Linked DNA regions of Homo sapiens. The protein of the gene in region 1 purifies or fractionates together with the protein of each later gene. This does not show direct contact. Each region holds a gene or a part of one and is shown on either strand. Other genes may lie near its edges. The genes, in order: SEC24A and SEC16A.

What was found.
Region 2: the proteins of SEC24A (region 1) and SEC16A purify together in Homo sapiens (affinity purification with western blotting; 2 studies listed by BioGRID and IntAct, with this or other methods). This does not show direct contact.

The regions. Positions count from the first base shown.
Region 1 is NC_000005.10:134,668,714-134,683,697, reverse strand, and holds part of SEC24A (protein transport protein Sec24A), read right to left. Parts: intron 11,890-14,984; coding exon 11,812-11,889; intron 9,084-11,811; coding exon 8,923-9,083; intron 8,654-8,922; coding exon 8,481-8,653; intron 7,676-8,480; coding exon 7,573-7,675; intron 4,097-7,572; coding exon 3,970-4,096; intron 1,326-3,969; coding exon 1,216-1,325; intron 1-1,215. UniProt on the Homo sapiens protein: Component of the coat protein complex II (COPII) which promotes the formation of transport vesicles from the endoplasmic reticulum (ER).
Region 2 is NC_000009.12:136,470,291-136,485,274, reverse strand, and holds the start of SEC16A (protein transport protein Sec16A), read left to right. Parts: upstream 1-2,234; 5' UTR 2,235-2,337; intron 2,338-6,444; 5' UTR 6,445-6,566; intron 6,567-7,590; 5' UTR 7,591-7,659; coding exon 7,660-11,226; intron 11,227-13,163; coding exon 13,164-13,300; intron 13,301-14,984. UniProt on the Homo sapiens protein: Acts as a molecular scaffold that plays a key role in the organization of the endoplasmic reticulum exit sites (ERES), also known as transitional endoplasmic reticulum (tER).

The DNA.
Region 1 (14,984 bases):
AAAAAACTTTTAAAAAATTAGCAGGGCATGGTGGTGCATGTCTGTAGTCCCAGCTACTTGGGAGGCTGAGGCAGGAGAATTGCTTGAGCCCATGAAGTTGAGGCTACAGTGAGCTATGATAGTGCCACTGCACTTTAGCTTCAGCAACAAAGTAAGACCCTCCTCTCTAAAAGAAATAAACGTTAAACAAAAAAATTAGGCATAGTAATTAGTTTTAAAATGCAAGACCTCAGATATTCTCACGGGTGTAGAAAAGAACAATATTTGCAAGAGGATCTTCATCACAGCATTATTTCTAATAGAAAAAAAATTTGTATGAAGGAAAAATGAAGCAATAGGGAAAAAAAAACTGACTGTAACTTATAAGTAAATATGAGCTGGCCGGGCACGGTGGCTCATGCCTGTAATCCCAGCACTCTGGGAGGCCGAGGTGGGAGGATCACAAGGTCAGGAGTTTGAGACCAGCCTGACCAACATGGTGAAACCCCGTCTCTATTAAAAACTCAAAAATTAGCCAGGTGTTGGCTCGCGCCTATAATCCCAGCTACTCAGGAGGCTGAGGCAGGAGAATTGCTTGAACCCGGGAGGCGGAGGTTGCAGTGAGCCAAGATCACAGCACTGCACTCCAGCCTGGGTGACAGAGTGAGACTCCGTCTCAAAAAAAAAAAGTAAATACGAGCCCAATATCATATTGGAAATTTCTGAATGTCACATAAGACACTTAAATGGGACTTTACATAAACTTTTACCTTTCAAATATACCCTTATATATTAATTACTTTAGTAATAAACAAGTATTACACTTTTACACATTTAAAAACATAAAATTTTGGCTGGGCACAGCGGCTCACACCTGTAATCCCAGCACTTTGGGAGGCCAAGGTGGGCAGATCACTCGAGCCCAGGAATTCGAGACCAGCCTGGGCAACATAGCAAAACTCTGTCTCTAATAAAAATAAGCCAGGTGTGGTGGTGCGTGCCTATAGCCCCAGCTACTCAGGAGGCTGAGGTGGGAGGATCACTTGAGCACGGGAGGTCGAGGCTGCAGTGAGCCTTGAACCTGCCACTGCACCACTGCACTCCAGCATGGGCAATGAGAGTGAAACTCTGTCTCAAAATAAAATAAAATAAAATTTTGTTACAGGATGCTGTATTGTTTTACTTAAAACCTGGTAATAAAAAATGGGTATACTGTATCAAAAAATAAAAGTTTACCATGTATTCTGAAGGAGCCATAAACTCAATAGTAGCATTTTGAACTTCTGGTCTTCTGTGAGGTTCTCCATAAACTCTGGTCAAAGGGTTGTACAAGAATTCTTCAGGAACTATATAAAGTTAACAATACACATATTGAAAAAACTGAAAAGAATTTAATGTATTTTGCATTTGGCCACTTTCTTCCTTGAAAAGATGACAAACATTCATTAAATGTCAATTATTTTCTTTTTTTTTTTTGAGACAGAGTTTCACTCTGTTGCCCAGGCTGGAGTGCAGTGGTGCAATGTCAGCTCACTGCAACCTCCACCTCCTAGGTTCAAGCGATTCTCCTGCCTCAGCCTCCCGAGTAGCTAGGATTACAGGCATGCGCCACCACGCCCGGCTAATTTTTTGTATTTTTAGTACAGACGGGGTTTCTCCATGTTGGTCAGGCTGGTCTCGAACTCCCAACCTCAGGTGATCCGCCCGCCTTGGCCTCCCAAAGTGCTGGGATTACAGATGTGAGCCACCACACCCGGCCTATTTTCTTAAACTTCCCAATTATACAAGGATATTAACATTTCACATATGAAATGTACAGACACTAGCTGGCACTAGAAGCTATGGTAAGACAATTTCAGAGGTCAAGGTCATAAGGTTTAGTAAGTTTCATTAATTAATGAGAACTTTATGGAACATCACTTAACCTAACATCATACCTACCACTTATAATACACTAGTGGTCAAAGAGTATTTTCTAAATTAATTATCATTGTATCTGTCTTCCTACTAATTGTTTAGAAATTCAAATCCCTATGCACTCTAAAGGTTAAGCTATAGTTCAGGAAATAGCCTGGTTTGCAGATGAAAGGGGCTTCAACTTTTATTATAATTTCATTTTGTATATTAAAGCACCTACACATAAAAATTTTAAAGGTAACTAAATACTTCATGTACATTTTCAGAATTGTTACAGTGCAAGAGAAAGTTCTTAGCCTATCCTTACTTTTCTATACTCAAAACACACACACACACACACACACACACACACACACACAAACAATAAAACTGTTTTTTTGTTTTGTTTTATTTGTTTGTTTGAGATGGAGTTTTGCTCTTGTTGCCAAGGCTGGAGTGCAATGGTGCAATCTCGGTTCACTGCAACCTCCGCCTCCCGGGTTCAAGCGATTCTCCTGCCTCAGCCTCCCGAGTAGCTGGGATTACAGGTGCCCGCCACCACACCCAGCTAATTTTTTTATATTTTTAGTAAAGATGGGGTTTCACTACATTGGCCAGGCTGGTCTCAAACTCCTGACCTTAGGTGATCCACCCACCTCAGCCTCCCAAAGTGTTGGGATTACAGGCATGAGCCACTGCACCTGGCTCTGTTTTGTTTGTTTTTGAGACAGAGTCTCGCTCTGTCGCCCAGGCTGGAGTGCAATGACTCGATTTCGGCTCACTGAAACCTTTGCTTCCTGGGTTCAAGCGATTCTCCTGCCTCAGCCTCCCGAGTAGCTGGGATTATAGGTGCCCGCCACCACACCCGGCTAATTATTGTATTTTTAGTAAAGATGGGGTTTCACTGTGTTGGCCACACTGATCTCGAACTCCTGACCTCAGGTGATCCACCGCCTCGGCCTCCCAAAGTGCTGAGATTAGAGGCGTAAGCCACCGTGCCCATCCAATAAAACTGGTTTTTAAAAACTCTTGGCCAGGGCTGGGTGTGTTCTCGGGAGGCTGAGGCAGGAGAATTGCTTGAACCTGGGAGGCAGAGAGGTTTCAGTGAGCTGAGATCATGCCACTACACTCCAGCCTGGCGACAGAGCCAGACTCTGTCTCAAAAACAAACAAACAAAAACAAACTCTTGGCCGGGTGCAGTGGCTCATGCCTGTTAATCCCAGCACTTTGGGAGCCTGAGGTGGGCAGATCACTTGAGGTCAGGAGTTCTAGACCAGCCTGGCCAAAACGGTGAAACTCCACCCCTACTAAAAATATAAAAATTAGCCGGCCGTGGTGGTGGATGCCTGTAATTCCAGCTACTCAGGAGGCTGAGGCAGGAGAATCGCTTGAACCTGGGAGGCGGAGGTTGCAGTGAGCCAAGATCGTGCCACTGCACTCAAGCCTGGGCAACAGAGTGAGACTCCATCTCAAAAACAAAAACAAAAACAAAACTCTTATATTCCTCTATTTCTCAAATCTTTCAAATAGACACTGTGGATACTGGCATACCCACTTCCTTCTCTAATACTAACAGAACCCTGTTGATTACATTATAGTCCTCAAATAAAAACTGTGACATAGTTATTGAGAGAAATCTCCTCCTCCTCAATTACTGAGAAAACTACATTCAACTAACCTTCTAGCACTGCCTACTTCCCTTCATTCAGCAGTGAATGAATTGGGCAGCTATTCTGTGGACTTATTTTCTTTCACCCTAGAGAAAAGGCGTGGGACAATTTCTAAATAAAAATGTTTCTTAAATTCCTGGCTTAAGTAATACCATGAAATATACCACTTATTATATACCCAATACAATGTAAAAATGGGATATCCATGTAATACTATCATTATTTTTTGCTTAAAAAATAAATAATTAAATTTATTTATAAATATAAACGCACAGAAAAAAGTTACCTGTAGTTTTCTCTGAGTGGAAGGATTGACTAGAGGTAAATAAAAGGGTTTTTTTTTTTTAACTGTGCATTTGTATCATCTGATTTCCCTACAATGCAAGTAGAAACGTTTAAATGTTTCAAAAAAGCATCCCATACCATCATTGACTCGATAACATAAGTTACACTTCCATCTCCTTTGATCAAGAAAGCTGACGAAAGGATTGATGTACGTCCTGCATGAACGGCATCTCACAATTGTACTGGAGGTAACCACAGGCAATTGCTGGAAAAAAAAAAACAGAATTAAATTTTTAAAGGCAAAAATCATCATGTTGAAAACATAAGCATGAATCCATCCTGTCTAAATAACTGTTGGGATATTATCATTTTAGAGAAAACTTAGAGTACAAGATGTATCTAAACTGCCATACACAAAAACCATGTAGTTGAAATGTATTAATTTTAAACCCTACTATTTTGCTCCAAGACCATTCTCATTAAAAGTTGTCTTAAAAAAAAAAATTATTGGCTGGGGACAGTGGCTCACATGTGTAACTCCAGCACTTTGGGAGCCAAGGCGGAAGGATTGCTTGAGGCCAGGAGTTTGAGACCGGCCTGGGCAACATAGTGAAACATGACCCTCTCAAAAGATTTAAAAAATTAGCCCAGTGTGGTGAGCTGGGTTGAAGTGGGAGCATCACTTGAGCCTGGGAGGTCAAGGCTGCAGTGAGCCATGACTGAGCCACTGCACTCCAACATGGGCAACAGAGCAAGACCCAGTCTCAAAAAATAAAATAAAATAAAAATGTAAAAACCATTTTTTTCCTCATTAAACACTCATATTGCAAAACCAAAATAGCAGGCCAGGCACAGTGGCTAACACCTATGTCTAAAATCCCAGCACTCTGGTGGGAGGCCAAGGCAGGAAGATTACTTGAGGCCAGGAGTTTGAGACCAACCTGGGCAAGAAAGTAAGACCCTGTCTCTATTTTAAAAATAAAAATAGGCTGGGCGTGGTGGCTCATGCCTGTAATCCCAGCACTTTGGGAGGCCAAGGCGGGTGGAACGCGAGGTCAGGAGTTCAAGACCAGCCTGGCCAACGTGGTGAAACCTCGTCTATACTAAAAATACAAAAATTAGCTAGGCGTAGTGGCAGGTGCCTATAATCCCAGCTACTCAGGAGGCTGAGGCAGGAGAATTGCTTCAACCCTGGGAGGCAGAGGTTGCAGTGAGCCAAGATTACACCACTGTACTCCAGCCTGGGCAACAGAGCAAGACTCCATCTTGGAAATAAATTAAAAAAATATATATATATATATCCCAGTGCTTTGGAAGGCCAAAGCAGGAGGATCACTTGAGGCTGGGAGGTAGAGACCAACCTGAGCAACACAGCAACAGCCCATCTCTACCAAAAAAAAAGAGTTTTTAAATAAATAAATAATAAGTTAAAAAAATAAAACCAAGATGGTAAATTTACAATGTACTTTTGGCATAAATGGCAAAGAAAAAAAAATCAACATTCTAAAATATATGACCAATGAAACTATTACAAAGTTTGTTGATGTTACATTAAGAAGCTTACTTAGTTCTCAACTATAATAAAGTAAGGTGAGGTTAATTTAAATAACCAGTTAAACTTTGGAATTACACTCCTAGTTAAAGTTTATCCTACATATTAAAAGTTCTAAAGTCTTAGCTGGGTATAGTGGCCAATGCCTACAGTACCACTTACTCTGTCTGGAGGCTGAGGCAGGAGGACTGCTTGAGCCCAAGAGTTCAAGGCTGCAGTGAGCTATGATCATGGAACTGCACTCTAACCTGGGTGACAACGAGAGACCCGGTCTCTAATAAATAAATAAATAAATAACAGTAAATACGTGGGAAGGGTCTTTGTAAGACTATCAGATTTGGGGAGATTTGTTTTGATTTACCAGAAACCCTGAGACAGGTGAACACTGATCAACTTAACTGAGAGCCAGTGCCTTGGACAACAAAGTGACATAGCATCTCATCTTTAAAGAAAGGTTTTATTTATCTTTTTTTTTTTTTTTGAGACAGTCTCACTCTATTGCCCAGACTGGAGTACAGTGTGGGATCTTGGCTCACTGCAACCTCCACCTCCCGGGTTCAAGCGATTCCCTTGCCTCAGCCTCCCCAGTAGCTGGGATTATAGGTGTGCATCACCATGCTTGGCTAAATTTTCTATTTCTGGTAGAGACGAGTTTCACCACGTTGGCCAGGCTGGTCTTGAATTCCTGACCTCAGGTGATCTGCCCGCCTCAGCCTCCCAAAGTGCTAGGATTACAGGTGTGAGCCACTGCACCTGGCCTTTATTTTTTTTTTTTAAGATAAGGATCTCATACCCAATCCTGGGCAATGCAGTTAAGACTCTGCTTCTTAAAAAAAAAAAAAAAAATCAATACAGGCAATAAAATTATATCACCACCAAAAAAATCCTATCACCAAAAGTAGTGTGTTTTGGGAAAGTCAGCAATCCTCAAGAGTATGTGGCCACAGAGCTTTAGGACAAAGGTAGATCAGTTTCTTTTTTCTTCTGAAATAACTTTTCTTTTTGGATACAGGGTCTCACTCTGCCACCCAGGCTGGAGTGCAGTAGTACAATCATGTCTCACTGCAGCCTCAACCTCCTGGGCTCAAGTGATCCTCCCACCTTAGCCTCCCGAGTAGCCAGGACTAAGCTGGTCTTGAACTCATAGACCCAAGCAATTCTCCCACCTTGGCCTCCAAAAGTGCTGGGATTACAGGCCATGAGCCACCATGTCTGGCTTAAAACAACTTTTTAAAATAACAAATTTTACTGCAAGGATGGCAGAACGGGGAGACTAGGGTAAAGTACTTTAATGGGTAAATAATTCACAACCTATTAAAATAGTATGATTCATTTATTTAGTTTCTCTCAGTACCTCTATTCTATTCAGTACTTTTTGAATTTTCCAGCAATATACTTACTTTACCTAGTATTTGAAAGTGTTTAGTAATAAAATTTTTGGTTGAATTGTAAGTAATCTGTCAATCATCGACTTCCTAAAGACAGATCAAACAAATTCTATATGTAATTCTTGCATCATTGCAGAAAATTTTCATCACCAAGATAATTTTGCACAAAAGACATTTACCTTCACTAAAGAGGCCGGGTGTAGTGGCTCAGGCCTATAAATCCCAGCACTTTGGGAGGTGGGCAGATCACTTGAGGTCAGTTCGAGACCAGTCTGGCCAACATGGTGAAACACCATCTCTACTAAAAATAAAAAAATTAGCTGGGTGTGGTGGCAGATGCCTATAATGCCAGCTACTTAGGAAGCTGAGGCAAGAGAATTGCCCGAACCTGGGAGGCGGAGATTGCGGTGAGCCGAGATCTCGCCACTACACTCCAGCCTGGGCGACAGTGAGACCCAGTCTCAGAAAAAAAAAAAAAAAAAAAAAAAGAGCCGGGCGCAGAGGCTCACGCCTGTAATTCCAGCACTTTGGGAGGCCAAGGCAGGTGGATCACGAGGTCAGGAGTTCAAGACCAGCCTGGCCAAGATGGTGAAACCCCCTCTCTACTAAAAATACAAAAATTAGCCAGGCACGGTGGCAGGCACCTGTAATCCCAGCTACTAGGGAGGCTGAGGCAGGAAAATCACTTGAACATGGAGGGCAGAGGTTGCAATAAGCTGAGACTGCGTCACTGCACTCCAGCCTGGGCGACAGAGGGAGACTCCGTCTCAAAAAAAAAAAAAGAAAAGAAAAGAAACATACCACTAAGTCTTTGAAAGGATGAAGCAGCAGCCCCAAAGGAAGTTTGGCTTTATTCAATAAGGCCTGCGTCTGAGGAATGCTAGTCAGCGTGCATCGAAATAACCTATATCAAAGTAAAAAGTATGTATCAGTTGCTGCTATGATTATTTTTGAAGAAAACAACAACAAAGATTTAAAAGGTATACATTTTAATACTGGATCAGATTACAGATGAAATATTTCAATAGAGTCTCAAAATTTTATCCCATTTAAATATTTAAATCTAAGTCCTATGCAGAAATAGAGTGGATGGTTATCCTATAACTAAAATATAGTCTCTTTTTGGCTTGTGTGTAAAACAGTCTAAACTATCAAATGACTTATTTTTTGTTTTGTAAGTCTAGTTGACACTGGAATTAAATTAAACTTAGGTGATGGCCCAAATTGCAAAGTCTATTATTTAAAAGTTCAGTTTTGCTGAAGATTCTAAATACAATTTAAAGGTACCAAATTTAATTTATCAGAAATTATTGATCATATACATTTAAGCTTATGGTAAGTTTTTAGGAAAAAAAGGTATTATGTTTGTTATGAAATTAATTTTAAATGAGAGCAAATAAAGGATTATGTAGAAACAAATCCCTGTACTTTGGATTTTGAAGAAAGAAAGTAACCACCATAATGATAATGAATATCATAATCTCATTAGAGCTGATAAGAACAAAATCACTTCAGGAGTTACATCCCTATTTCTTGACGTAGGACTTTTCAAATCTCTATTAAGTAAACAAGTAAAAGAGTTCTATCATCTGTATCCAGAACTTTCATAAATTAATAATTTGTACAGCTTATTCATAACACCTGATGTGCCCCCTGCAAAAAGCTAGAAAACTTTTCGGACATGCATAATGTCACATCTGAAGCCTTACTCTGGGTTACAGTTGAGTTTCTGGATGTCTTCATGCAAATTTGGAACTGGAGGCTTCAAAGGTGTTGACGGAAGCATGTTTCTTTCTTGAAGAAGATTGACAACTCTTAGACCCTCTGGTTGTAGACTTAATCCACTCATGCTTGTGGTTAAATGATTAGCACCTAAGGGAGTCTACAGATACATAATTTTAAAGTAAGTAACTTTTATTAAGTGTGTAGGGAAGTGGTTAATTTCTCTGTAAATAACAAAAGTGTAATCTAGATCTCTTGGCCAATCTTTTGGTTCTGGAAAAATGTATAAAGACAAAGGCTTTATGAAATATCCATTATTATTCTAAATGGTTATAAAAATGTATAATATACCTTCCTAAAACTTTCTTCATGTGTATACAGTTTAAACCAAATGGAGAAATAGGTTAAAGAAAATCCCAAAAAGTTTACCTGAGTAAAGGCTTGTGGCCCACTTGGGTAATTCAAGGAAGAGGGTGGTACTCCAGTTGCACCAGGTGGTGTTGTGTTCTGATAACCAGGTGGTAAGGAGGGATATGAATATCCAACACTTCGGCTCATTTTGGGATTCTTGTTAGTAAGCTGTGGTGTTGCTAGAAACAAGGTAACTTTTAAGTTCTATTTTATACTCCAGAATACTTGATTTATTTATTTTAAAAAAACATTTTTTTTGGAGAAAGGGTCTCACTATTGCCCAGGCTGCAGTGCAGTGGTGCAATCACACCTCACTGCAGCCTTAACCTCCTAGGTTCAAGTGATCCTCCTGTGTCAGCCTCCCAAGTAGCTGGAATGACTGGTGTGTGCCATCATGCCCGGCTAATGTTTTTGTATGTTTTGTAGAGACGGGACTTCACCATGTTGTCCAGGCTGGGATTACAGGCGTAGGCCACCATGCCTGGCCCAGAATGCTTTAAATCAACACATAAATCTAATAAGTTATAGGTATTATAACTCCAAAATTCTTTGGATAATTTAATACTTTCATTTATCAAATTTTTAAAATAAGACAAACACCAGTAACAAATAGCAATGACTAAAATCTATTTATTTTATTTTATTTATCATTTTATTTTTCGAGATGGAGTCTCACTCTGTCGCCCAGGCTGGAATGCAGTGACACAACCTTGGCTCACTGCAACCTCTACCTCCCGGGTTCAAGCGATTTTCCTGCTTCAGCCTCTCGAGTAGCTGGGACTACAGGTGTGTGCCACCACACCACCTAATTTTTGTATTTTTAGTAGAGATGGGGTTTTACTACGTTGGTCAGACTGGTCTCAAACTCCTGACCTCAGGTGATCTGCCTGCCTTGGCCTCCCGAAGATAGGATTACAGGCCATGAGCCACCGTGCCCGGCCAAAAATCTTGTTAATGGATTTACACTAGTTAATATTTTATACTATAGTAGTAGACACAAAAACTAGTTTGCACAGTTAATTTACTTTCATGTCGGCTGGGTGTGGTGACTCATGCCTGTAATCCCAGCACTTTGGGAGGCTGAGGTGGGTGGATCACTTTGAGGTCAGGAGTTGGAGACCAGCCTGGCCAACACAGTGAAATCCCATCACTACTAAAAAGTACAAAAATTACCCAGATGTGGTGGCATGTGCCTGTAGTTCCAGCTACTTGAGAGGCTGAGGTGGTAGAACTGCTTGAATCCAGGAGGTGGAGGTGAGCCGAGATTGTGCCCACTGCACTCCAGCCTGGACGACAGAGGGAAACTGTCTCAAAAACAAAAACAAAAACAAAAACAAAAACAACAAAACAAAAGAACAGTTAATTTACTTTCATATCATGTACTAAATTTTGTATTCAGACTAAAATTTTAATTCAAAACAACTTTAATTATAACATCCTGGCAGGGCGAGGTGGCTCATACCTGTAATCCCAGCACTTTGGGAGGCCGAGGTAGGTGGATCACAAGGTCAGGAGATCGAGACTATCCTGGCCAACGTGGTTAAACCCTATCTCTACTAAAAATACAAAAATTAACTGGGCGTGGTGGCACGTGCCTGTAATCCCAGCTACTCGGGAAGCTGAGGCAGGAGAATCGCTTGAACCAGGGAGTTGGAGGTTGCAGTGAGCCAAGATCACACAACTGCACTCCAATCTGGGCGACACAGCAAGAATCCATCTCAGAAAAAAAAAAAAAAAAAAAATCCTAAATGGGCCGTGTGAGATGGTTCACACCTGTAATCCCAGCAAATCGGGGAACCAAGGCAGGAGGGATCTCTTCAAGCCAAGGGTTCGAGACCAGCCCAGGCAATATATTGAGACCCACCCCCCCATCTCTACAAAAATAAAAAAACTAGCCTGGCATGGTACCATATGCCTATAGTCCCTGCTACTCAGGGAGGGTGAGGTAGAAGATCGCACGAGCCCAGGAGTTTGAGGCTACAGTGAGCTATAACAGTGCTACTGCACTTGAGCCTGGGTGACAGAGACCCTGTCTCAAAAAAAAAAAATCCTAAAAGTACTCTATAGTCAAAACATAATAATAATAAATCCATGATCCCAATTCTGACAGAAGAAAAACTTAACAAAAAATCTAATGCATAGAAATAAAAAATGTTAAATAATAGAGCCAGATGTTATGGCACATGCCTATTATCCCAGCACTTTGGGAGGCAAAATGGGCAGATCGCTTGAGCCCAGGAATTCAAGACCAGCCTGGGTAACATGGTGAAACCCTGCCTCTACAAAAAATACAAAAATTAGCCAGGGCCTGGGCATGGTGGCTCATGCCTATAATCCCAGCACTTTGGGAGGCCGAGGCGGGCAGATCACTTGAGGTCAGGAGTTAGAGGACAGCCTGGCCAACATGGTGAAACCCTGTCTCTACTAAAAATACAAAAATCAGCAGGGTGTGGTGGCGGGTGCCTCTAATACCAGCTAACTGGGAGGCTTAAGTGGGAGAATCACTTGAACCCAGGAGGCAGAGGCTGCAGTGAACCGAGATACTGCCACTGCACTCCAGCCTAAGCAACAGAGCGAGACTCAGTCTCAAAAAACAAAAACAAAAACAAAAAGCTGGGCATGGTGACACGTGGCTATGGTCCCAGCTACTCAGGAGGCTGAGGTGGGAGGACTGCTTGAGCCCAGGAGACTGAGGCTGCAGTGAGCCATGATCGCACCACTGCACTCCAGCCTGAGCGACAGAGTGAGACCCTGTGTCCAAATAAATAAATAAATAAGTTAATAGTATGTATGGCTACATGATTATGAAGTTTCCCTCTTAGTTTCCTATATATTTGTACAATTACCACATATTATTTCTATAATCAGAAAAAAGAGATTAAAAAAAAAACTTTCATAGCATCTCACCCAATAAGCCACCTCCTTCAATCTCGTCGTAACTACTGTGGACCACCATAGATCCGTTATTGGTATTTGATGTAATACCTAAGAAGGAAGTTCATCAACAAGATTTTAATTAGAATGATTATTACAATCTCTGTATGATTTTAACTAATATCCAAAATTTTAAATAATTTTCTAAACAACAAATAATTTAAAACCACAGCCTATTAACAACATAAAAAATCCAAGTTTTTACATATACGATAGTTTCAAGTAATTTAGCTGCAACTTCAGGGAAAGGAAACATGAGTCTTTGGAAAGAGTCTTTTTTCACCTTACATTGTACCTAAGCCAAAGGCCCAAATAACAAGGCTTTTTCAAAACCTACTCCAGCAAAATAACTTCTAGCAAAAGATGGTTCTTTATGAAGTTTATAAAATTATATACCATCTGAAAGATTTCAGCAGTTGTGAGAGCTGCATTAAAAACCTCTAAGGAGCAGTACACAATGAAAAAAAATTATCAAAATCAAAACTACCTAAAGAAAAAGAGGCCAGGTGCGGTGGCTCACGCCTGTAATCCCAGCACTTTGGGAGGCCAAGGCGGGCGGATCACGAGGTCAGGAGTCAGAGATCAGCCTGGCCAACATGGGGAAACCCCGTCTCTACTAAAAATACAAAAAAAATTAGCTGGGTGTGGTGGCGCGTGCCTGTAATCAGCACATGCCTGTAATCAGCTACTCGGGAGGCTGAGACAGGGAATTCCTTGAACCTGAGAGGCAGAGGTTGCTGTGAGCCAAAATCGTGCCACTGCACTCCAGCCTGGGCGACAGAGCGAAACTCCATCTCAAAAAAACAAACAAAAAAAGAAAGTAAAATTATGAGGAGCAAAGACCTTACTTTCTTTTCTTTTCTTTTTTTTTGAGATGGAGTCTCACTCTGTTGCCCAGGCTGGAGTGAAGTGGTGCGATTTCAGCTCACAGCAACCTCCACCTCCTGGGTTCAAGGGATTCTCCTGCCTCAGCCTCCCATGTAGCTGGGACTACATGTGCCCGTCACCACGCCTGGCTAATGTTTTTGTATTTTAGTAGAGACAGGGGTTCACCATGTTGGCCAGGATGGTCTCAAACTCCTGGCCTCGTGATCCGCGTGCCTTGGCCTCCCAAAGTGCTGGGATTACAGGCATGAGCCACCGTGCCCAGCCCTTATTTTCAAAATATCTAACAATGAGAGTGGAATCCAAATTAATTTGAAGATGACATAAATGAATTAGAACAACTGCTTTAAGTCCAGAGGACAACCACTAAAATAGAATTAAAATCTTAACATCTCTTCTCCCAAAATTATACAGGATTAAAGACAAATGCCAGGGACATCTGTTTATGAGAACTAAATATTTATTTCTAGTTACCTCTACTAAGTATGAGCTCTAATTCAGGAATAGAAGACACTTAATTCAGTGAATAGCATTAACCTCTAGCACCTAAGTACAAAACTGCTAACTTCAATAGCTGTATTAACACGAAGTAGATACATTTAATGGTTTAAAGTCAGTAACTTCTTTCCAGTTCTCAAGACCAACATGATTTTAGCCATGAATTTGTAACAGAAAACCACAGTAAAACTTTTAGGAGAAACAAAAACACTGGGCATATTGTGAATTATTTTTAGTTGTTAAAAAAATGTAGGCAAGGCGTGGACGCTTACACCTGTAATCCCAGCACTTTGGGAGCCAAGGCAGGCAGATCACTTGAGCTCAGGAGTTCACACCAGCCTGGGCAACATGGGAAAACCCTGTATCTACTGAAAATACAAAAATTAGCTGGTTGTGGTGGCACATGCCTGTAATCTCAGCTACTCAGGAGACTGAGGCACAAGAATCGCTTGAACCTGGGAGGCGGAAGCTGCAGTGGGCCAAGATCCTTCCACTGCACTCCAGCCTGGAAAACAGAACTCCAGCCTCAGCAAGAGTGAGACTTATGTCTCAAAAATAAATAAAATAAAATATTAGCCAGGTGTGGTGGTACACACCTGTAGTTCCAGACCAGGAGGCTGCAGCTGTAGCCTCCTGCACCTCTGCATTCCAGCCTGTGTGACAGAGTAAACTCTATCTCTTAAAAGTTTTTTTTTTCTGGGGCCGGGCGCAGTGGCTCATGCCTGTAATCCTAGCACTTTGGGAGGCTGAGGCAGGCGGATCACAAGGTCAGGAGATCGAGACCATCCTGGCTAACACAGTGAAACCTCGTCTCTACTAAAAATACAAAAAAAATTAGCCGGGCGTGGTGGCAGGCGCCTGTAGTCCCAGCTACTCGGGAGGCTGAGGCAGGAGAATGGCGTGAACCCGGGAGCGGAGGTTGCAGTGAGCCAAGATCGTGCCACTGCACTCCAGCCTGGCAGACAGAGTGAGACTCCATCTCAAAAAAATAAATAAATAAAAATTTTTTTCTGCCGGGCACAGTGGCTCACGCCTGTAATGCCAGCACTTTGGGAGGGTGAGGCAGGAGGATCACCTGAGGTCAGGAGTTCGAGACCAGCCTGACCAACATGGAGAAACCCCATCTCTACTAAAAATACAAAATTAGCTGGGTGGGGTGGCGCATGCCTGTAATCCCAGCTACTCGGGAAGCTGAGGCAGGAGAATCACTTGAACCCAGGAGGCGGAGGTTGCGGTGAGCCGAGATCGCACCATTGCACTCCAGCCTGGGCAACAAGAATGAAACTCCCTCTCAAAAAAAAAAAATTTTTTTTTCTTATTTAAATATTTAATGTAACTTGATTTTCAAAGTAATACTGTGGCAACCAATGAGACAATGCCTCATCATTTTGATACTCTTTTTTTTGAGACTGAGTCTTACTCTGTCACCCAGGCTGGAGTACTGTGGTGTGATCTCGGCTCACTGCAACCTCCACCTCTCGGGTTCAAGAGATTCTCCTGCCTCAGTCTCCCAAGTAGCTGGGATTACAGGCACATGCCACCACGCCTAGCTAATTTTTGTATTTTTATTTTTTATTATTTTTATTTTTTTTTGAGACAGAGTCTTGCTCTGTTGCCCAGGCTAGAGTGCAGTGGGCAACACTGGAGTGGCCTTACGGGTTCAAGCAATTCTCCTGTCTCAGCCTCCCGAGTAGCTGGGATTACAGGCGCCCACCACCACTCCTGGCTAATTGGTTTTTTTTGTGTGTGTGTGATGGAGTTTT
Region 2 (14,984 bases), on another chromosome or scaffold:
AGGCTACAAACTGCTGAGAGCTGTCTCCGTGCACTCAGGATTAGGGAGAAGAGGGGGAAGAAAGACAGCCGCGCCCCCTGCAGGTGATGTGGTGATTCACACCCCTAGGAGCCAACAGAAGCCGCTGTCTAACATCCCTGCCCTGAGGTCCAGAGACCTTGCATTTTATGCCTAGGGCAGGGTTGGTTTCTGCAGCTATGGTCTCTCCCATAGCTTAGTGCCCACCCCGGTGGGACCACAGGGTTTCGGAGGACCCTAGAGGGTCGAGCCCTGGGCTCCTGGCTCTTGGGTTCTTTGAACTCGCGAGCGGCAAAAGGCGAGCCCCACGCCTGAGAGGCAGCATCCACCTCTGCATCCCCCTCTTTGGAAAGGGCAAACAATGACACCTCCTTCCGCGGAGGGTGCAGAGCGCCTCGACCACTGGGAAGAAGCAGATGGGGGCAGCGGGGCTGGGGCTGGGCCCTACCACGTGCTCCCTAACTCTGTTCAAACAGGTCAGGAATCTGACTCCTGAAAGGCAAATGTTAGCTGAGCAGATTGGCCCTGGTGCCACGTCAGCCGGACTGAAGCTCTCCCTGCACCGCCTGCGGCCCTGCTGGCGTGGCACGGATATCACCCCCTCCCTCACCAGCCGCCGGCCCAGCTGGGGACAAGGGTGGCTCCCACCCAGGGAGGACCTCAGCCGCTGCTGGGAGCTCAGCCTCCCGCGATGCCATCGGGCGGGCACCCCCACCACGGCGCCTGCCCTCTGGAAGGAGCAGCAGAGGAAGGCCGCGGCTCTTCCCTGCCCTTGCCAGGCAGGTGTGCAGGTGAGTGGGCCCGGCATGGCTGGCCGCTTCCTCAACCGCTCAGCCTCCCTCGGCTCCTCCGAAAAATGAGGGCACAGAGGATAGTGCCCACCTGTTCCCTGCGATCTTCCGCGGGAGGGCGTGGATGCTGCCTGGCCTGGCCGTGGCAGGCACAGGAGCGCCTACCCGCCTCACCCCTCCGCTGGGTCGCTCTGGCCGCCCGAGCGCCCGGGCCCACTCGCCACCGACGTGCACTCAGCCAAGGCTGGGACCCCAGCGCCCCTGTGGGGCTGGCGGCCGGGGGAACGAACCGAGTAGGCCGCACCTCCCCGGGAGGACAGCAGGGCTGGGGCCAGGGTGGGCCTGGGAGGGCCCGGCGCAGCAAAGGCGCAGGGCGGAGCTTGGGGACGAGGAGCCCGCGCGTCCCCCTTGCGAGTCGGCGGACACCCGGCTCCGCGCGGTGGCCGGGCCGCCCCTCCCTGCCCGGGCCTCTGTGCAGAGCGAAGGGACAGTAGAGGATGCGTCGGGGAAACCCCAGGACGCTGGCCAGGGACTGGCGGCAGCCATCGACCAACTTCCGGCGCCGCTCGGTGCCCGCGGCCACGCCGTAACCAGGCAACCAGCGCGCAGGCGCAGTCGGCCCTCCGCGTCCCGCAGCTCCGGCCGCTCCCGGCGCATGCGCGGCCGCCGCCGCCTGCCCTCCAGCCTCCCAGCCCAACGGAAGAATGCGAGGAGCGCGCCCGCGTCAGGGCCCCGCGCTTCTCAGCTGGGCGGAGTAGCCGTTCTCGGTGCGTGAGCCTGCTGGCATCGGTCCTGCAGACTGATTTCCCGCTTGTGGCCTTGATTGAAGAATCCCATCTCTTCTCACATCTTAAAACGAAAAAAGACTGGGAGAAAGAGCCAGCGTAAACAGGGCGACGTACTGGGACGGCCCCGGCGCGCCTGGCCGGGCAGGTGGCGAGGGGCGGGGCCAAGCGGTGAGGCGGCAGACGGACGCCGGAGGGGGGCGGGGCCACGGGCGGGGAAGGACGGCCGAGGGGCGGGGCCAAAGGGGCGGGAACGACAGGATGAGGCGGAGAAAGACGGACGACGGGCGGGGCTAAGGGGGCGGGACGAAAGAATGAGGCGAGGAACGACGGAAGAGGGGCGGGGCCAAGGGGAGCGGGAACTACAGGATAAGGCGTGGAAGACGGGCGGGGGGCGGGACGAAAGAATGAGGCGGGGAAGAACGGACGCCGGCGAGGGGCGGGGGCAGAGGGGGCGGGACAGAGGGATGAGGCGGGGAGGACGGACGCCGGCGAGGGGCGGGGCCGAGGGATGGGCTGTGAAGGGCTGAAAGAGAACGCGTCTGGGCCGACGAGCCGAGGGGCGGGGCCAGGGGCGGGGCGCGCGCTGATGTCGTAAGCCGGACACGTCGGCGGCGCGGCGGCCGCGGAGACCCGAGCCGGATGTGCCAAGATGGCTGCGGCGGCTGAGGTGTCTGTGCTCGTCGCCAGCGTCGGGTGGGCTTTCGCCCGCGGCTCCTGAGGGATCGGTCTCAGCCGCGCGGGTGAGGGGGCGAGCGCGGGTGAGGGGGCGAGCGCGGGAGGAGGAAGGCGGAGGCCGGCCGGCGGAGCCAGGCCGTGGAGGTCGGGGCGCGGAGGAGAGGAGGCGGCTGGGCCCAGCCCCGAGCGGGCGGTGCATCTCGGGTCCCGCCGGGGCCGGTCGAGGGGACAGACGTCCGGGCCCCCGGGCCAGAGCGGAAGGCCGGACGCGGCGCGGGCCGCCGTGGGACTCGAGGGACTGACGTGGACCCGGCTGGGCTGCGGTGACGCCGGTTCCCGGGGCGGGAGGCTGGACCCCCAGGCACCCCTCGTAAGACTCTTAACTTTTCAAATGAGCGTGTCTTGTCCTCACCGGCTAGAAGGCTTCCTTAGCGATGCTGGTGAAGAGACACATTTACATTTGAACCAAAGAGCAGAGTTGTTTGTTTGTAATTTCTTGATTGGGCGATCAGGATGTTGCAACAGAGGCCGAGGGTTAGAGGAGTGTGTGTGATCCGGCTCGCCCCTTTGTGATGGAAGTGTTACAGTAGAGCCTTCAGAAACATCAGAGCCATTTAAAGTCAGTTTTTGCCGCTTAAGAACACTTTTAAATGGCTTGTAAGTTGGGTGTGGATTGTATATTAAGATTTTGTTTTACATGTGTGATGCCGATGTTAACCAAAGAGGTATTTCCCATCCCCCATGTGGCAATACGAAGCAAACGGAACCGCAGACGGTTCTTCCTAGAAGTGATACTTTTGCAAGTTTCAGCACAATGCAGCCTCCCTGCGTTTTTTCCTCATCCCCTTTCTTAAGTTTCAGGTGCTGGTATCTTGTAGACAAGAGGCAAAATAGCGTGTCTTTCTTGTTCCTTGTTCCTCGTTTACTGTTAATAGTGGTTACTACAGTGAGTCTCAAAATTGTACTTAAAGTTTTCTTTGAGGCAGTGGGCACTTTTTTTTTCTTTTTCTTTGTCTTTTTTTGCCAAATCCAGCAAGAGGTCATGGTAGTGGGTAAATGTTAATGTGATTTCTTCTTCTGTAAGCATCTTTCATGAATACCAGGGTCTTCGTCATTTTCATCAGTGTTAGGCTGCTGGCCTCCTCTGTCGCTGGCTTCCTCTTCAACATCTAACTGTATGTGGTTGCGATTCTAACTTAGAAGAGTTGGAGTTGATCATGTCTTTGTGTCAAGCATCCCACAGTCTGACAGGGCGTCACTAGCAGCCACCGTGAGGGAGACTGTAGGCAGTAGGTAAACTCAGGGGCTTCCTGGCACACTATTGTTTTCCTCACTTAAAATATGAAGCCAGTGGCAGCAAGAGGAGAGGGGTGTGCATGCATTTTAAATGCCTCAGTTCTGTAGCCAGAACTGTACTAAAAAGAGTTTTGCTTAGGTATCCACATGGTTACAAGGCAGTTTAACTGACTAGCTAGGTTTATGAATACTGCATTTTCAAGATCAGCTGGCCTCTTTGGAACAATAAAAGAATTAGATGACTTGAGGTTACAGAATAAAATTCCCTGGGCCGGGCGCGGTGGCTCATGCCTGTAATCCCAGCACTCTGGGAGGCTGAGGCGGGCGGATCACGAGGTCAGGAGATCGAGACCATCCTGGCTAACACGGTGAAACCCCGTCTCTACTGAAAATACAAAAAAAAATTAGCCGGGCGAGGTGGCGGGCGCCTGTAGTCCCAGCTACGCTGGAGGCTGAGGCAGGAGAATGGCGTGAACCCCGGGGGGCGGAGCCTGCAGTGAGCCGAGATCGCGCCACTGCACTCCAGCCTGGGTGAAAGAGCAAGACTCCGTCTCAAAAAAAAAAAAAAAAAAAAAAAGAATAAAATTCCCTGTAGTGGTGACATAGGTGATAGGCAGTTGCATTGTTTTTCTCCTGGTGAGTAGAGAAAAAGATCAAAAAAATCAGTTCAAGTCACAAGATTGTTCCAAATGAAAGTGGCATGTTGCTAAAAAGCTCTCAATTAGGGAGCATGAAGGTTGGAATGCTCCTTGTAAGTGATAATGTTTGCCATAAAAAAGCTCTTAGTCTAGGAGAGCTGCGGAATAATTTTTTTTTTTTTGAGACGGAGTCTCGCTCTGCCCAGGCGGGAGTGCAGTGGCGCGATCTCAGCTCACTGCAAGCTCCGCCTCCCAGGTTTACGCCATTCTCCTGCCTCAGCCTCCCGAGTAGCTGGGATTACAGGCGCCCGCCACCACGCCCGGCTAATTTTTTGTATTTTAGTAGAGACGGGGTTTCACCGTGTTAGCCAGGATGGTCTCGATCTTCTGACCTCTTGATCTGCCCGCCTCGGCCTCCCAAAGTGCTGGGATTACAGGTGTGAGCCACCGTGCCCGGCCACCCCTGTTAAACAGCAGGTGGGATTAGGACATCCCAGAATCCACTGTGAGTAGAATCTCATAAGATTAAACCCGGGTTTTTTAGGAAAAAATAATCACATCGATTCTCGCATTTTATAGACAAAAATACATTGCAGAAAGAGGAGTGGCTGCCTCGAGCCACTCACCTGGACACTCAGTTTTGCTCTCACAGCAGCAGCCAAGGAATAAACCTCTAGGCCCGTGCTCTGTGTTTAAAGCAAACAAAAGCTTTTGAGGATGATAAGGATCTTCCCGGGGAAGGCCATGTCTTGAGAGATGAGGTAGGACCCCAGTTCTGGCAGCAGAGTTTCAGGAGGTGCTTGGAAGTTTGCGTGTTCTGGCCGTGGTTGCAGGTGTCGCTGTGTCTGCTGTGGCTGTGCAGCTGGTAGGACCCAGTGGAAGATAATGCCAGTGCACAGATCAGAGGAAGATGCTCTGCCTGTTCTCCTTTCAGTCCATATAAAATAGAGCTGTGAACATTCTTTGTTTTCAGATGAGAGCCTAAAACCTCCATGAAGCCTTTGCTGCTGTTCCTAGTAAATAGCTTGACTTAAAATACATTGATCAGTGTTTTCTTCTTTTTTTTTTTGAGACAGTTTCACTCTGTCGCCCAGGCTGGAGTGTTGTGGCTTGAACAAGGCTCACTGCAGCCTCAACCTCCCTGGCTCAAGCGATCTTCCCACCTCAGCCTCCCGAGTAGTTGGGACTACAGGCACGCACCACCACGACCGGCATTTTTTTTTTGGTGATGGGGTATCGCTGTGTGTTGCCCAGGCTGGTCTCAAACTGCTGAACTCGAGTGGTCCTCCTACCTCCCAAAGTGCTCGGCTTACAGGTGTGAGCCACTGCACCTGGCCAGTGTTTTCTTCTTTTATCTGAATATCAGAAAGATTTCCAAGAGACCAAAATAATATACATCTGCAAAGATGTGTGGATTGGCCAGGCACGGTGGCTCACGCCTGTAATCCCAGCACTTTGGGAGGCCGAGGCGGGTGGATTATGAGGTCAGGAGATCAAGACCATCCTGGCTAACATGGTGAAACCCCATCTCTACTGAAAAGACAAAAAATTAGCCTGGCATGGTGGCAGGTGCCTGTAGTCCCAGCTGCTCAGGAGGCTGAGGCAGGAGAATGGCATGAACCTGGGAGGCGGAGCTTGCAGTGAGCCGAGATCGCACCACTGCACCCCAGTCTGGGCGACAGAGCAAGACTCCGTCTCAAAAAAAAAAATGTGTGGATTAAACTACAGAGTCCTCCCCTTTGGTTTAATTTTTCCTTTGATTGGCTAAACTTATCTGTTTGTTCATGAGGGTGGTGCTGACAAGAAGAAAGACTGATAGAAAGAAAAGAACTTTCCTAAAGATATAGTCCTTGAATTTTTGCCTTAAGAGGCCAGGTTAACTATTCAAGTTTGTATCTACTATGTTTTATTTAAAAACTGATGGAGGTTTTTGCCCCTTTCTTTTCTGTAAGAGGTTTCTTGGCAATTCTGCCTGTTGTTGAAAGTGTTGGAATCCAGTCTGTGCCTTGTAAAGCTGCTTTAAGTTTCCTGGGAGTTTCCATTCCAGGCACAGTTACGGCTCCAGTTCAAAGGTAACATCTTGCTGGTGGTCCTTTCAGACCTTAAGCCAGTCACAGTACAAAAACGGAGACCTATGAAGAGGTGTGATAAAAGGCATTTAGATGAATATATTTATTTTGCAGTGCTTTTTAAAAAAATGATTGTGTCACTTTTTATTTATTTATTTTTTTAAAATAGAGACCGTCTTGCTCTGTTGCCCAGGCTGGACCGCGGTGGTATAATCATAGCTCACTGCAGCCTCGAACTCATGGACACAAGTGATCTTCCTTCCTTAACCCCCTGAGTCCCTGGGACTACAGGTGTGTGCCACCATGTCTGGCTAACTTTCTTCTTTTGTAGAGACAAGGTCTTGCTATGTTGCCCAGGCTGGTCTCGACCTCCTGGGCTCTGGCAGTCCTTCCACCTTGACCTCCCAAAGTGCTGGGATTACAGGCATGAGCCACTGCACCCAGCCTATTTTGCAGCTTTTATAACTATACTTCATAATGCTCTTTCATCAAAGAAAATGGAAGAATGAATTTTAAACTTTTGTATCCCTTTTGAAATTTAAAATTAACATGTATGGAAAGTATGATATAAAGTTTTCCTTTTTTTTTTTTTTTTTTGAGCTAGGGACTCACTGTGTCACCCAGGCTGAAGGGTAGTGGTGCTGTCATAGCTCACGACAGCCTCAACCTCCCAGGCTGACGCAATCCTCCTGCCTCAGCCTCCTGAGTAGTTGGGACTACAGGTGTGCACCACCATGCCTGGCTGATTTTTGTATTTTTTGTAGAAACGAGATCCCCCTGTTGCTCAGGCTGGCCTCGAATTCCTGGGCTCAAGTGGTCCTCCCGCCTTGGCCTCTTAAAGTGTTGGGAGTACAGGCGTAAGCCACCATATCTGGCCAGTTTTTCTTTCTTAATAGAAGAGTTGGCTCTTCCTGGATCTAGGGATGGTTTACAGGAAAACATTGAGTATCTGTGGGTCTGGTAGCATATCACAGCAGTGGTCAGGTTCCGCACTGTCCCTGTTGTTGTGGCGCGGGTCTGCGGCAGCAATGGGCCCTGTGAGTAGAGGATCCCAGGGGAGGGAGTGGCCATCTAGACATACTCCATCAGCTCGCAGCCAGGCCATCCAGGGTTCTCACTCTGTCCCCTGCCCCCCAGAACAGTTCCTCAGGGACAGGTGTTCTCTGCTGGGGTGGGGTGTAGGGGAGAGAGAGTCCTTGGGATTTAAGTGACATAAAATCATGTTCAATGTTTCTCTTTTTCCTTAGTTTTCCTGATTGCAGCTAGGACTTTGAATATATGGATTTTATGCTGATTTTCTCTTTTTCTTTTCCAGCTCCAATTAAGGAACAGCTATATCCTGCTTCCTTCTGTAAGCAGCATCGACTTGTGCAAGGGTTCAGTCATGCAGCCACCGCCCCAGACGGTCCCGTCTGGCATGGCTGGGCCACCTCCAGCCGGGAATCCTCGGAGCGTGTTCTGGGCTAGCAGCCCTTACAGGAGACGGGCTAATAATAATGCAGCAGTGGCTCCGACAACTTGCCCGTTGCAGCCGGTCACGGATCCATTTGCTTTTAGTAGACAGGCGCTCCAAAGTACACCACTGGGCAGTTCGTCCAAAAGCAGTCCACCTGTCTTGCAAGGCCCAGCCCCCGCAGGGTTTTCTCAGCACCCCGGTTTGCTTGTTCCTCACACACATGCCAGAGATAGCTCTCAGGGACCCTGTGAGCCCCTGCCTGGACCTCTGACACAGCCCAGAGCACATGCCAGTCCGTTTTCTGGTGCATTGACACCTTCAGCACCTCCTGGGCCTGAGATGAACAGGAGTGCAGAGGTCGGTCCCAGTTCAGAGCCTGAAGTTCAGACTCTGCCATATCTTCCTCACTACATTCCAGGAGTGGATCCTGAAACGTCTCATGGGGGCCACCCTCATGGGAACATGCCTGGGCTCGACCGACCCCTGAGCAGGCAAAACCCACATGACGGTGTGGTCACCCCAGCAGCATCCCCTTCCCTCCCTCAGCCTGGTCTGCAGATGCCAGGACAGTGGGGGCCAGTGCAGGGAGGCCCACAGCCCTCGGGGCAACATCGTTCACCCTGCCCTGAAGGACCTGTTCCCAGCGGGGTGCCCTGTGCCACCAGCGTTCCTCATTTCCCCACCCCGTCCATCCTACATCAGGGCCCTGGTCATGAGCAACACAGCCCTCTGGTGGCTCCCCCAGCAGCCTTGCCCAGTGACGGAAGAGACGAGGTGAGCCACTTGCAAAGTGGAAGCCACCTGGCCAATAACTCTGATCCTGAAAGTACATTCAGGCAAAATCCCAGAATTGTGAATCACTGGGCAAGCCCAGAGCTCAGGCAGAATCCAGGAGTGAAGAATGAGCACCGGCCCGCCTCTGCTCTTGTGAACCCCCTCGCCCGGGGAGATAGCCCAGAAAACCGTACGCACCACCCACTGGGGGCTGGGGCCGGGTCTGGCTGTGCCCCGCTAGAAGCAGACTCAGGAGCTTCAGGAGCTCTGGCGATGTTTTTCCAAGGGGGAGAGACAGAAAATGAGGAGAATCTCTCATCTGAAAAAGCAGGCTTATCTGGTCAAGCGGACTTTGACGATTTCTGCTCCAGCCCTGGGCTAGGCCGTCCGCCCGCACCTACACACGTGGGGGCAGGCAGCCTCTGCCAGGCCCTTCTCCCAGGCCCCAGCAATGAGGCTGCTGGTGATGTGTGGGGTGACACAGCGAGCACAGGGGTGCCGGATGCCAGCGGCTCGCAGTATGAGAATGTTGAGAACTTAGAATTTGTTCAGAATCAAGAAGTTCTGCCAAGTGAGCCCCTCAATTTGGACCCTTCCTCCCCGAGTGACCAGTTCAGATATGGGCCCCTTCCTGGGCCAGCTGTGCCCAGGCATGGTGCTGTGTGCCACACCGGAGCCCCTGATGCCACACTGCATACAGTGCACCCTGACAGCGTGTCATCCAGCTATAGCAGCAGAAGCCACGGAAGGCTCTCAGGCTCAGCCAGGCCCCAGGAGCTGGTTGGCACATTCATTCAGCAAGAAGTTGGAAAACCCGAGGATGAAGCTTCAGGTAGTTTTTTTAAGCAAATCGATTCTTCTCCCGTAGGAGGTGAAACAGACGAGACCACTGTGAGCCAGAATTACCGTGGCAGCGTGTCCCAGCCCTCAACCCCGAGCCCCCCGAAACCTACAGGAATATTTCAGACAAGTGCAAATAGTTCTTTCGAACCGGTAAAATCTCACTTAGTTGGGGTAAAACCATTTGAGGCAGATCGCGCCAACGTGGTTGGTGAAGTAAGGGAGACCTGTGTCCGCCAGAAGCAGTGCAGACCAGCTGCCGCCCTGCCCGATGCTTCCCCTGGCAACCTGGAGCAGCCACCAGACAACATGGAGACCCTCTGTGCACCCCAGGTCTGTCCCCTGCCTCTTAACTCCACCACGGAAGCTGTGCACATGCTTCCGCACGCAGGGGCACCGCCCTTGGATACTGTGTATCCAGCACCCGAGAAGAGGCCTTCAGCCAGGACCCAGGGGCCCGTGAAGTGTGAGAGCCCAGCAACGACTCTGTGGGCGCAAAGTGAGCTGCCAGATTTTGGAGGCAACGTCCTTCTGGCCCCTGCAGCCCCGGCGCTTTATGTGTGTGCAAAACCTCAGCCACCTGTTGTTCAGCCTCCAGAAGAGGCGATGTCCGGGCAGCAGTCACGGAACCCAAGCTCGGCGGCCCCGGTGCAGAGCCGAGGTGGCATTGGTGCTTCTGAGAACCTTGAGAATCCTCCCAAAATGGGAGAGGAGGAGGCCCTTCAGTCCCAGGCGAGTTCTGGTTATGCAAGTTTATTATCCTCACCGCCCACTGAGTCTCTGCAGAATCCTCCAGTCTTGATTGCTCAGCCTGATCACAGCTATAATCTGGCTCAGCCCATTAACTTTTCTGTGTCCTTATCGAACTCTCATGAGAAGAATCAGTCCTGGAGAGAGGCTTTGGTGGGGGATAGACCTGCAGTCAGCAGTTGGGCTCTCGGTGGTGATTCTGGGGAGAACACTTCTTTGTCTGGGATTCCAACCAGCTCTGTCCTTAGCTTGTCTCTGCCTAGCAGTGTTGCCCAAAGTAATTTTCCACAAGGTTCTGGTGCTTCCGAAATGGTTTCTAATCAGCCTGCTAATTTGCTGGTTCAACCACCATCCCAGCCAGTTCCAGAGAACTTGGTTCCAGAAAGTCAAAAGGATCGTAAGGCAGGAAGTGCTCTTCCCGGATTTGCTAATAGCCCTGCTGGAAGCACAAGTGTGGTGTTAGTTCCACCTGCACACGGCACCCTGGTGCCTGATGGTAATAAGGCAAACCATTCCAGTCATCAGGAAGACACTTACGGAGCCCTAGACTTTACCTTAAGCAGGACTTTGGAAAATCCTGTAAACGTGTACAACCCGTCCCATTCTGACAGCCTCGCTTCTCAGCAAAGTGTTGCCAGTCATCCCAGACAATCTGGGCCTGGGGCGCCTAACCTTGACCGTTTTTATCAGCAGGTCACGAAAGATGCCCAGGGCCAGCCTGGCCTCGAAAGAGCCCAGCAGGAGCTGGTGCCACCCCAGCAACAGGCTTCTCCCCCACAACTACCCAAAGCCATGTTTTCGGAGCTGTCAAATCCAGAAAGTCTGCCCGCACAGGGACAGGCCCAGAACTCAGCACAGTCACCAGCAAGTCTGGTTCTGGTCGACGCGGGTCAGCAGCTGCCCCCTCGGCCTCCTCAGTCCTCTAGCGTGTCTCTGGTGTCCAGTGGCTCCGGCCAGGCAGCTGTGCCGTCAGAGCAGCCGTGGCCACAGCCAGTGCCTGCACTTGCCCCCGGCCCACCGCCTCAGGACCTGGCCGCCTACTACTACTACCGGCCTTTGTACGATGCCTACCAGCCTCAGTACTCTTTGCCGTACCCACCGGAGCCTGGCGCAGCCTCCCTCTATTACCAGGTAAGAGTCGAGTCGTATGTGTAACCCACTTTTCTGTCTGTGCTTTGACCAGTTGAGTCTCACTCACAGTGTATTCCTTAGTAGTGTTTGTTCGCTTGGTTCCGGGGTCACCCACAGTCCCGCAGGCGTGAGAACAGTATTCCAGTAACGCTTCCTGAGGACAGGGCTCCCGGCTCCAGAACCTACTCTCCCAAGCACAGGCCACCCTTAGTTCACACCACGCGTTAGCATCTTGAATTGCTTATAATACTTGCTTAGGATTTGAACCAGCCTCCCCAGCTTATGTGACAAAAAGAGCCCTCCATTTGCTGTCACCCCTGCTCCTGCTGGCTGTCTGCAGAAAAGTTCTGTCTTGCATGCCTTGGGAAGCTGGGCTAGCCTCTGGAAGCTTACGTCAGAAGCATTGGGTATAACCATAGTCCTTTAAATGCCCCTGGAGAATAAAAACATGGAGAGAAAATAGTTTTGGAGCATGAGCCACACGCATCAGCTAAGCGAGGCGGAGTCCCGCAAGCTGCTGTCAGCACGTGGTGGTGCGGGCAGCGGCTCGGGGACCGGCTGTGCTCGTGCAGAAGATTCTTCTGTGCCTCTTTTTCACAGGGACACCAGCTCATGAGTGACATTTGAGTTAGGTTCCGCATAATCCTGCAGTCGTTCGAAAAGTGTCTGTGTACACATTTGATCATTATCTGCTTTTCCTACCCTCTAACCCAGTTCAACATACACCGATTGGGTTCACCGATTCAGTGTCACCCCAGGTAGAAGGATTGTGTGATAGGGAATTGGAAAACCATGGTCTTGCGGTATGTAAGGCCAGTTGGAACCAGACTTGGGGCCACACAGGAAGGCCTTGCAGTCAGAAGGGGGCCCGCCCCGAGGAGCAAGGCTGCCGTGGCTTGCTGGGTACTGCCCCGGGGAATGGGGCTGGGCCTCCCCCATGGGCCTCGAGCATCATGGTTTGTGTGCGTGTGACCAGGTGCACACCTGACCCCTCAGACCTGTGTAGGTTCCAGAAGGAGCCCAGGCACTTTTTATTTCCATACAAGGACATTCAGCTCTGCTGGGAGCCCTGGGGTGGGGCTGGTGCAGAGCGACGGGAAGCCGTGGCCTCACTTCGGGTCCTTTGTCCGGTCCTCCTGCTGCGAGCCACCTCCCTCCGCAGGAGTGCACTCCTCCCGCCGTGCCTCTTGCTGTGGTGTCCGGGTGGCCAAGGATGAGTCTGTTTTGCTGTGATTTCACATTTCCTGCCAGGCAGCGGCAGCGTCGAGGCCTTGAGGCTTTGAGGCGCTTAAGCGTGAATTCTGGCGTGTGTCCGGGGCACTGCATGTCTTCAGATCCTCATGTGTCCACATGGGCCCCGTTGGGAACAATTCTGTGGCCACGAATTGGTTGGTGATGGGGCTGAAGCCTCCCGAGAATAAAGCACGGTCCGCTTTTAGAGGCTGCTCCTGGCTGGGGCTCTGTTCACTGGGACCCTGGTTCTCTGACTTAACTGAGGTGGCATCTGAAGCGGGACGCAGGGGTTGTTCAAATCATGGCATCTCCACACTGGACTTATCAGGAAGCAGAAACCTAACAGCCCCTTCCAGAAGTCGCCACAGCCCCCTGGGGTTGTCTGCTGACATGCTGGTGCCCTGGGTCCATCCAGAGGTCTCCTGAACAGGGCCAGGGCTGTGGGTCTTAGGACACCCTGCTGCCTGTGGGTGTGGCTGTGCTTTGGAGGTCTGTGTGGTTGTGTATGAGGGAAGGGCCACGCTCAGTCCTGCTGGAGAGCAGCCATCTGCGATGTTTCTAGCTCAGGCTGGTTGTTGGACGAGCTTGCTCTTGGTAGGTATCTAATGCTGCCCGCCCTCTGCAATGTTTCCAGCTCAGGCTGGCTGTTGGACGAGCTTGCTCTTGATTGGTGTCTAATCCTGCCCAAATGCTTCCTCCCACAGGATGTCTACAGCCTCTATGAGCCTCGATACAGGCCCTATGATGGTGCTGCGTCTGCTTACGCCCAGAACTACCGCTATCCCGAGCCCGAGCGGCCCAGCTCCCGAGCCAGCCACTCCTCGGAACGGCCACCTCCCAGGTGCGGCCGCGCCCACCCTGGCTGCCTCTCTGTCCTACTCAGACCCATGTCTGTGTTGCTTGCTATGGGGATAACTTAGTGACTCAAAAAGTTCTGTATTTCTGAAGAATTGTACAAACTTATCTAACATATGTTGACATTTTCTTGGTATGGACAAATTGTAGGGTGTGTTTTTAAATGAAATTAAACACTGCCCCAGGTGGTCATTAGCTGTGCTGGTCAGTTAGCATTTGGCGCCACCCCTACTGGGGCCAGACCCTGCTCAGGGCTGCAGAGAAGCAGCCTCTGACTTGTCTGTGAGCCCCTCTTGACGGGGCACGTCTGTTGGTCCGGCCATTTGCTAATGGGGTGTTCAGGCTCCCCAGAGACACGGCAGCTTTTCACCGGTCTCCGGAGGCCTGGGAGGACTGGTCACAGAGGTGACTTAATTCTTAGACCTGTCAGGCTGGCTACAGAAAGCAGGGCTTGAAAGCCTGTGTTTCCTCTTCTTTTTTTTTCTTTTAAGGCAGGTCTCACTCTGTTGTCCAAGCTGGAGTGCAATGGTGCCATCTTGGCTCACTGCAGCCTTGACCTCCTGAGCCCAAGCAATCTTCCCACTTCAACCTCCCGAGGAGCTGGGACTACAGACATGCCCCATCAAACCCAGCTAATTTTGTTCATTTTTTTTTTTGTAGAGACGAGGGTCTCACTATGTTGGCCAGGCTGGTCTCGAACTCCTGGCCTCAAGGGATCCTCCTGCCCTGGTCTCCCAAAGTGCTAGGATTACAGGCATTAGCCACTGCGCCCGGCCAGCCTATGTTTCTCCTTGACATTGCCGCCTCTGCTTGAAGGCCAGCCATTCCTCTGTTTGCCATTACAGAAGAGGGGTTTGGAAAGACCTGTGGCACTGTGGCTTCAGCTGAGTAGCCCTTTAAGCCAGGTCAGAGTCCTCCTGGGCCCTAGAGCAGAGGAGGCTGTTGTTGATTTTCATCTCCACTCAGGGAGGTGCGCAGAGCCCTGCGAGGGGTGGGCGTGGTCCTGGCCACCGCGCTAGGCTGCGCCTTCCAGGGCCTTAGCTGCACTTGCTCCTTGTGAGATCTGAGAGAGACTGTCTCACAGATAGAGCCTTCCTGCAAGGGGATATTGCTTCTTAAACTTGGTAATAGAGAAAAAGCTACTCATTAATGAAGACTTTGTACCTGCACTTGTTTTTGAAAGGTTCCTCGTGCTTATTAGAGGTTTTTAGGAGCTTACCTAAAGACAAAGGCTCTGTCTGTGAACCTCTGCCCACGCAGCTGGCCCTGGTGTACTCGGCTCCAAGGGCATGCACTGGGCGGTGTGCAGCTGGATGTTGGAGGTGCTTTGTGAAGCAGGCGGCACTGTGAGGCTTCACCTCTCTGGAGGCTGTAATTGTGAGAAAATTCCCAGGATTTGAGCTACTGTGTGTCACCCTGTCACCTGGGAAGCGGGGTTTGAAGTTAAGATCATATTCCGATTCAAAGCCTTCCAGCTCCGGGTGAGGGTGAGCAGACAGGTGTTTCCTAGAGGCCCTGAGAGGCGAGAGCACGGAGGAGAGACAGCCAGGGAGCATTCTCACTGTTCCGTTTTCCTTCTGCTGCTGGCCGCCCTGCCAGGCTCACCTAGGAACCGATTCTGAGAGGCCAGTGGTGGCTCGTGCTACGGAGAAGGCCTTTCACCAGAGGCA